2 linked regions of the Homo sapiens genome follow. The protein of the gene in region 1 purifies or fractionates together with the protein of each later gene. This does not show direct contact. Each region holds a gene or a part of one and is shown in the gene's direction. Other genes may lie near its edges.

Evidence for each region. Proteins that work in one complex are often made in the same cells at the same time.
Region 2: the proteins of DHTKD1 (region 1) and UNC45B purify together in Homo sapiens (affinity purification with mass spectrometry; one large-scale study listed by BioGRID and IntAct). This does not show direct contact.

What each region holds. Positions count from the first base shown.
Region 1 is NC_000010.11:12,092,954-12,096,453, forward strand, and holds part of DHTKD1 (2-oxoadipate dehydrogenase complex component E1), read left to right. Parts: intron 1-1,119; coding exon 1,120-1,318; intron 1,319-3,500. UniProt on the Homo sapiens protein: 2-oxoadipate dehydrogenase (E1a) component of the 2-oxoadipate dehydrogenase complex (OADHC). Participates in the first step, rate limiting for the overall conversion of 2-oxoadipate (alpha-ketoadipate) to glutaryl-CoA and CO(2) catalyzed by the whole OADHC.
Region 2 is NC_000017.11:35,164,014-35,169,109, forward strand, and holds part of UNC45B (protein unc-45 homolog B), read left to right. Parts: coding exon 1-153; intron 154-4,047; coding exon 4,048-4,348; intron 4,349-5,096. UniProt on the Homo sapiens protein: Acts as a co-chaperone for HSP90 and is required for proper folding of the myosin motor domain. Plays a role in sarcomere formation during muscle cell development. Is necessary for normal early lens development.

The sequences.
Region 1 (3,500 bases):
TGCAGCCTTGACATCCCTGGCTCAAGAGATCCTCCCTCCTCAGCCTCCTTAGTAGCTGCGATTTACAGACACATGCCACCATGCACAGCTAATTTTTTTTTTTTTTTGAGATGGAGTTTCGCTCTTGTTGCCCACGCTGCAGTGCAATGGCGCCATCTCGGTTCACCACAACTTGCACCTCCCGGGTTCAAGCAATTCTCCTGCCTCAGCCTCCCGAGTAGCTGGGACTACAGGTGTCCACCACCACACCCAGCTAAATTTTGTGTTTTTAGTAGAGACGGGGTTTCACCATGTTGGTCAGGCTGGTCTCAAACTCCTGACCTCAGGTAATTCACCTGCCTCAGCCTCCCAGAGTGCTGGGATTATAGGCGTGAGCCACTGCACCTGGCCACAGCTAATTTTTAAAATAATTTTTGTAGAGATTGAGTCACTGTGTTGCCCAGGCTGGTCTTGAACCTCTGGTCTTGTGTGATCCCTCTTCAGCCTTCCAAACTGCTGAGATTACAGGCGTGAACCACTGTGCCAGGCTGAAATTGGTCATCTTAAGATAAAGACAGTGCTGTTATTACCCATTCCCAGTTTCACAGTTTACAAGGCTGTTTGATGGTAGCAACTATTCTCCTTTTATACAAACAGCCTGGACTGGATGCCTCTTGGGCTTGTCTATGTGAATCCTTTATGATTAGTCTGATGAAGATTCTTTGGAGCAAATTTATCTTTTTCTAAGGTACATCCTTTAATGACCCTTTTATCTCAGGGAGAAAGAGAGTAATGATAATAACAGTAACAAAATAAATATTAACTACTATGTACCAGGCACTGTTAGGCATTACAATTGTTTGTGCATTCACTCATCGAACCTTTGCAACATCACTAAGAGGTAGGAGCCCCATTCCCGATTTATAGATAAGTAGGTTGAGATTTGTAGCTTTACCGAGGTCACACAATAAGTCCCAGAGTTGGAACTTGCCAGCTGGTCTCCAAAGCTGGGGTTGTTAACCAAACCAATATCTACCTGTGAGGATTGGGCTGTCTTTTGATGCAGGAAGTAGGGCTTAGAGAGGGCCAGTGTCATTCTGGGTTAACTGTCCTGTTTCGGCTTGGTCTTCTGTCCTTCAGGGAAGCTTGTGGGCTGTGCCATCATCCATGTCAATGGAGACAGCCCAGAGGAAGTGGTCCGTGCCACACGACTGGCTTTTGAATACCAACGCCAGTTCCGCAAGGATGTGATTATTGATCTGTTGTGCTACAGGCAGTGGGGCCACAATGAGCTGGATGAGCCATTCTACACCAACCCCATCATGTACAAAATCATCAGGTACAATTATAAACCCTTGTGTGATATGCCCCCTAAAAATTAAAATTACTATTATTATTCTTTTGAGATGGAGTCTTGCTTTGTCACCCAGTCTGGAATGCAGTAGCACGATCTTGGCTCACTGCCATCTCCACCTCCCGGGTTCAAATGATCCTCCTGCCTCAAGTGATCCTCTTGCCTCAACCTCCCGAGTAGCTGGGATTACAGGCGTGTGCCACCGTGCCTGGCTAGTTTTCATACTTTTTAGTAGAGATGGAGTTTTGCCATGTTGGCCAGGCTGATGTCAAACTCCTGACCTCAGGTGATCTGCCTGCCTCGCCCTCCCAAAGTGCTGGGATTACAGGCATGAGCCACCATGCCCAGGCAGGACATGAAACTTTAAGAGCTAAAGCTGACACAGTTCTGGGCTGGAGTGCAGGTGGCACAGTCTTGGCTCACTGCAACCTCTGCCTCCTGGGTTCAAGCAATTGCAATTCTTGTGCCTCAGCTTCCTGAGTAGCTGGGATTACAGGTATGCATCACCACGCCTGGCTAATCTTTGTATTTTTAGTACAGACAGGGGTTTCGCCATGTTGGCTAGGCTGGTCTCAAACTCCCGGTCTCAAGTGATCCACCTGCCTTAGCCTCCCAAAGTGCTAGGATTACAGGCATGAGCCACCGTGCCTGGCCTCCCATACTCTTCACACTTGACATGGTTCCTCATTGAATAGAAAAAGGGCAATAGAAAACTCAGCAGATGGGAAGATTGAAGCAGGGGGAATTAAGCAAACCTCGCCCAAATCTATTTACTGCAGTGTCGGCAGGACCAGAAATAGAACCTCAGTGATTCATTTCTACAAACCATAGCTGCAGACCTGCCTGGCACCTTGGTGAGAGGTAACTCAGAAGATTCTAATGAATGTTCAGAACCATGCTGTCCAAGATGGAAGCCACTAGCCATCAGTGGCTATTGAGTACTTGAAAAGTGGCCAGTCCTGATTAATGTGCTGTAAGGATAATACACACACCATATTTCAAACACTTAGCATGTAAAATATAAACCCAAAATAATATTTTTAAATTTATTAGATATGGAAATGACAATATAATGAGTATATTGACTTAAATAAAATATGTTATTGAAATGCCGGGCATGGTGGCTTATGCCTGTAATCCCAGCACTTTGGGAGGCCAAGGTGGGTGGATCACTTGAGGTCAGGAGTTTGAGACCGGCCTGGCCAACATGGTGAAACCCCATCTCTACTAAAAATAGAAAAATTTGGCCAGGCGCGGTGGCTCACGCCTGTAATCCCAGCACTTTGGGAGGCCGAGGCGGGCGGATCACGAGGTCAGGAGATCGAGACCATCCTGACTAACACGGTGAAACCGCGTCTCTACTAAAAATACAAAAAATTAGCCGGGCGTGGTGGCGGGCGCCTGTAGTCCCAGCTACTCGGGAGGCTGAGGCAGGAGAATGGCGTGAACCCGGGAGGCGGAGCTTGCAGTGAGCCCAGATCGCACCACTGCACTCCAGCCTGGGTGGCATAGCGAGACTCCGTCTCAAAAAAAAAAAAAAAAAAAAAGAAAAGAAAAGAAAAGAAAAAGAAAAATTAGCTGGCGTTGTGGCGCGTGCCTGTAGTCCCAGCTACTCGGGAGGCTGAGGCAACAGAATCGCTTGAACTGGGGAGGCGGAGGTTGCAGTGAGCTGAGATTGTGCCACTGCATTCCAGCCTGGGCGACAGAGCGAGACTCGGTCTCAAAGAAAAAACAAGAAGAAAAGAAATTAATTTCACCTGTTTCTTTTTATCTTTTCTAACGTGACTGCCAGAAAATTTTAAATTACTCATGGCTTGCATTTCATTTCTGTCCCATGGTGCTGATTCAGATGGTTAATGTGACGGAGGGGGAATTTGTTACTTTGGAACTTCCTTTTCTAGATACTAGAAAATAAAATAGATTCCCCTCCTCCAAGTTTATTTCCTTATAGATATAAATTAAAGCAGAGGAATACACGTTTTATGAGCGTTTCTGATCCTTGGTACCAGAAAGAGGACTGCTCTCAGAAGAACTAATTGTGTTCTGTTTAGCTCTGAATTTAGCAGCTGAATGACTCAGTGAACCTCAGGGTTCTATTTTATTTTATTTATTTTTTTGAGACACGGTCTTGCTCTGTCGCCCAGGCTGTAGTGCAGTGGTATGATCA
Region 2 (5,096 bases), on another chromosome or scaffold:
GGTTGTGGGGCAGGTTCCAGATCTGCCATCCTGCCTGCCCCTGACTGACAACACCCGCATGCTGGCCTCTATCCTCATCAACAAGCTCTATGATGACCTGCGCTGTGACCCGGAGCGCGATCACTTCCGCAAGATCTGTGAGGAATATATCACGTAAGTTTCCTGGAGGCCTCACAGGGTCAGGCTCTGTCTTGGTTATCTATGGCTGTGTAACAAATTATCTCAAAATTTAGCAGCTCAAACAATAGTGTTTTATTATCTCACACCAGAACAGAAATTTGGGAGTGGTTTGGCTGGGTGGCTCTGGCTTATGGTCTTTCATGAAGTTACAGTCATATGCTGGCTGGGGCTGCAGCCATCTGGAGGCTTGACTGGGGCTGGAAAATGCTTCCAAGATGGTGGACTCACACAGCTGGCACACTGGTGCTGGCTGTTGGTGGGAGGCCTTGGTTCCTCTCCCTGCAGACCTCTCTGCAGCCTGCTGAAGCGTCTTCACTGCATGCCGCTGGCATGCCACAGTAAGAGAGCCAAGACAGAGCAAGGCAGCAGGGAGATGTCTTCTCTATCTAGCCTCAGAAGACACATGTCATCACTTCCGCCACATTCTATTCGTTAGAAGCAAGTCAGTAAGTTTGACCTATGTTTAAGGGGAAGAAATTAGGTTTCAGCTTTTGAAGGCAGGGGTGTCAACATATTTTTGGACATATTTTATTTTATTTATTTTTTGAGACAGAGTCTCACTCTGTTCCCCACGCTGGAGTGCAGTGACACAATCATAGCTCACTGCAGCCTCGAACTTTTGGGCTCATGTAATCCTCCTACCTCAGCCTCCCAGGGTAGCTGGGACTACAGGCACTTGCCACCATGCTGGGCTAATTTTTTTTTTTTTCTGTCACCCGGGCTGGAGTGCAGTGGCATGATCATGACTCACTGCAGCCTCAGCCTGCTGGGCTCAAGCGATCCTCCTGCCTCTGCCTCAGCCTCCCAAGTAGCTGAGACTATAAGTGTGCACTACCACGCCTGGCTAATTTTTGTATTTTTTGTTTTGCTATGTTTCCCAGGCTGGTATTGAACTCCCAAGCTCAAGCAATCTTCCTGCCTCTGCCTCCCAAAGTGCCGGGATTACAGGCATCAACTACCTTGCCCAGCCATGGACATATTTTATACCTACCACTGGCTTCTGTGGTTGAAAGGAACACATGTCAGCTTGTCAAGGAGGGAGGCCCGGTTCTTTCAAGACTAAGACTCATGTGGCTTTGCAGAGCTAGACAGGGGTTAGGACCCTCAGCAGCTGCAGTTCCTGAGTCTCCTCACTGGTGCTCCAGCATCAGTGTGACTCCAGTGCATGACCTTTTAATTCTTTATTGCAGTGATTCCCAGACTTGTAAATTATTCAGATTTCTGAGACATCCCCTCTTGACTCGGTAGTTTGGGGTGTGGCTCAGGAAGCTGCATGCTTAAAAGCACTCCAGGTGAGTCTTAGGTGGGTGAAGACGTTGCCTTTACTCTGCTTTTCCTTTCTATATTCCAGGGGTCAACAAACTTTTTCTATGAAGGGCCAGAGAGTAAATATTTTAGTATTTGTGGGACAGATAAGTCTCTGTCAACATATTTTTAAAAATCCTTTAAAATGCAAAAAGCTGGCTGGGCACAGTGGCTCACGCCTGTAATCCCAGCACTTTGGGATGCCGAGGAGCGCGGATCACCTGAGGTCAGGAGTTCAAGACCAGCCTGACCAACATGGTGAAACCCCATCTCTACTAAAAATACCAAAAATTAGCCGAGTATGGTGGCACATGCCTGTAATCTCAGCTACTAGGGAGGCTGAGGCAGAAGAATCGCTTGAACCCAGGAGGTAGAGGTTGTAGTGAGCCAAGATCGCACCACTGCACTCCAGCCTGGGTGACAGAGCAAGTCTCCATCTCAAAAAGAAAAAAGAAAGGCAAAAAGCTGCTGGCCAGGTGTGGTGGCTCATGCCTGTAATCCTAGCATTTTGGGAGGCCGATGTGGGAGAATTGCCTGAGACCAGGAGTTTGAGACCAACCCAGGCAATGTAGAGAGACCCTCATCTCTAAAAAAAAAAAAAAAAAAAAAAAAATTAAAAATGAGTCAAGTGTGGTGGCACACCCCTGTAGTCTCAGCTACTTGGGAAGCTGAGGTAGGAGGATCACTTGAGCCCAGGAGGTCAAGGCTGCAATGAGCCTTGAATGCACTACTGCACTCCAGCCTGGGCAAGAGCGTGAGACCCCGTCTCAAATAAAATAAAATAATGTGAAAGCTATTCTCAACTCCCTGGATTTGCCAACTCCTTCTCTACCCCACGGCTTCTGCTCACCCTGACTTTGGTTCACTTAGGTCTTTTCAAGGCTTCTGTCTTTCTCTACCTCAGTTTCAACTTTTCCTGCTGACTTCTTGAGTCCCTCATGAGGTCCCCAACTGACTCCCATTACCTGTCATCCAGCTAGTTCTTGTTTGGGCTTGTTGATTGAGGCTCCCTCCTGTCAGCCTGTGGAATGCTGAGAGGAGGGGTCACTGCCTTCATCAAATGGTGCCCCAGCCTGCCCCTAGCAAGAGTGGAATACATCCCGCTTCATCAGGGGCGGGGGCTGTGTGGGGACCCAGTGCCAGCTCAAAGGTCAGACCGCAACTAATTACGAAGGATGCTGGTTCCCTGGGCACTGAGTGGAGAGATGAGGCACAGGACATGGGATGCTCAAGCTGGAGGGGCTGTCAGAGCTTCCAAAGCTGAGTCCTCTTCCCCAGGGGAACTTGCCTGAGATCCTCCAGCAATCAGAGGCAGACATGGGACCAGAGCCCAGGTCTTGGACTCTTGGTGTGGAGTTCTCCTGACCAGTCCACGCTGCCTTCTTGCATTTATACACAGCTGCATTTCCACTGTGCACATCTGCCCTGTTTCCCACAATGCACCAACCTGGGCAGATGAGAAGCATCAGAAGGCATGTCACCTCTGACATTCCCACGCAGAGATTCTCCCCTAGAGTAGATGATAATAGATTCTGAAAGCAAGGCAGAACGTTCCTGGATATCTAGCCCACATGCTCACCAACAGGGGAAGGGACTAAGACCAGATCACCAGAGGGGAGTGACTGGCCCAGGCCATGTCACAGAGAGACACAGTGTGCCGGGCATCACGCTAGGCCTTTTTGTGTTGTTGTCAATGCTGTACTGTCCTCCCAGACACAGCAGCTGCTGGAAAGGCTGTCAGCTGACAGCTCTCAGCTGTTATCTCTCTTTGGGACTTGTCTCACCTGGGGAGAGCTGTTTCACCCTTCCCAGGGAAGCCAGTATGCAAACACTCACACCAGGCTAGTTGAGGTGACTCAGACCTATAATACCAGTGCTTTGGGAGGCCAGGTGGAAAGATCATCTGAGGCCAGGAGTTTGAGATCAGCTTGGGCAACATAGCAAGATCCCATCTCTACAAAAAAATTTAAACAATTGTCTGAGCATGATTGTGTGCACCTGTAGTCTCAACTGCTCAGGAGGCTGAGGTGGGAGGATTGCTTGAGCTTAGGGGTTTGAGGTCACAGTGAGCTATGATGGCACCAGTGCACTCCAGCAACAGAGCAAGACTCAGTCTCAAAAAAAAAAAAAAGAAAGAAAAAGACTCACTCTAACTTGGAACAACTGTGAAGGGTCTTCCAGCTCCAGAACTTCTTGGAGGCTGAGGCTTTGTGATAGCTGCAAAATGCCTCCCTCTGCCCCAGTCCTGCTTCCTTCTCTTCCCAAGAGCTCTCTCTAATAAACTTCCTGCATGTCAATCCCTGAGTCAGAGTGTATTTCCCAGAGGCACACTCTGTGACACAGCTGTTATGTCATTTATCCTCACCACAACTCTGAGAACTAGTAGTACTATCCTCAGTTTACAGGAGCTGAGGCTCAGAGAGGTTCGCTGAATTGCCCAATATCACACAGCACATGAGTGGTGGAGCCAGGATGCAAATCCAAATCCTACTGCCTCCAAATCTCACACTCTTTCCACTCTCTTGGACCAGTTCTCTTGACCACCCTTGTCCTTTGTTTTAGGGGCAAGTTTGACCCCCAGGACATGGACAAGAACTTGAATGCCATCCAGACAGTGTCAGGGATCCTGCAGGGCCCCTTTGACCTGGGCAACCAGCTGCTGGGACTGAAAGGTGTGATGGAGATGATGGTGGCACTATGTGGCTCAGAGCGCGAGACGGACCAGCTGGTGGCCGTGGAGGCCCTCATCCATGCCTCCACGAAGCTCAGCCGCGCCACCTTCATCATCACCAATGGAGTGTCACTGCTCAAACAGATCTACAAGACCACCAAAAATGAGAAGATCAAGATCCGCACACTGGTGGTGAGTGGGCTCGGTACCACCCTCCTACTCAGTACAAGGTGCCATGCCAGGCACCAGGGACACCAAAATGAATGAGTTGAGGCTGCTGTCCTTGAGGAGACCAGGTTCAAGGGGGCACCAGACCCAGCCACAGACCCCTGCAGAACAGGGCAATATCCAGGGGGCTTGTGAGGATGTAGATTCAGAACCGTGAACTCTGCTGCTTAACCCTGAGGACGTTCGTCTCCCTGCTTATGAACAACATGAACACTGAGGAGCTTGTGTCCAGAATGCATTTTCAGAGCAAATTCTGAAGAGTCACTTTCCTTAATCAGTTTCTATAAGGTATTTTTTTTCCACTTTCATTTTACTTTTTGTTTTTTTGAGATGGAGTCTCACTCTGTCACCTAGGCTGGAGTGTAGCAGCGAAATCTCAGCTCACTGCAACCTCCGCCTCCCAGGTTCAGGTGACTCTTGTGCCTCAGCCCCCAGAGTAGCTGGAATTACAGACGTGTGCCACCACACTCAGCTAATTTTTGTATTTTTAATAGAGACGGGGTTTCGCCATGTTGGCCAGGCTGGTCCTGAACTCCTGACCTCAGGTGATCCACCCCCCTGGGCCTCCCAAAGTGCTGGGATTACAGGCGTGAGCCACTGTGCCTGGCCTGAAATTATTATTATTATTATTTTTTCAGACAGAGTCTCCCTCTGTAGCCCAGGCTGGAGTCCAGTGGCATGATATTGGCTCACTGCAACCCCCATGATCTCG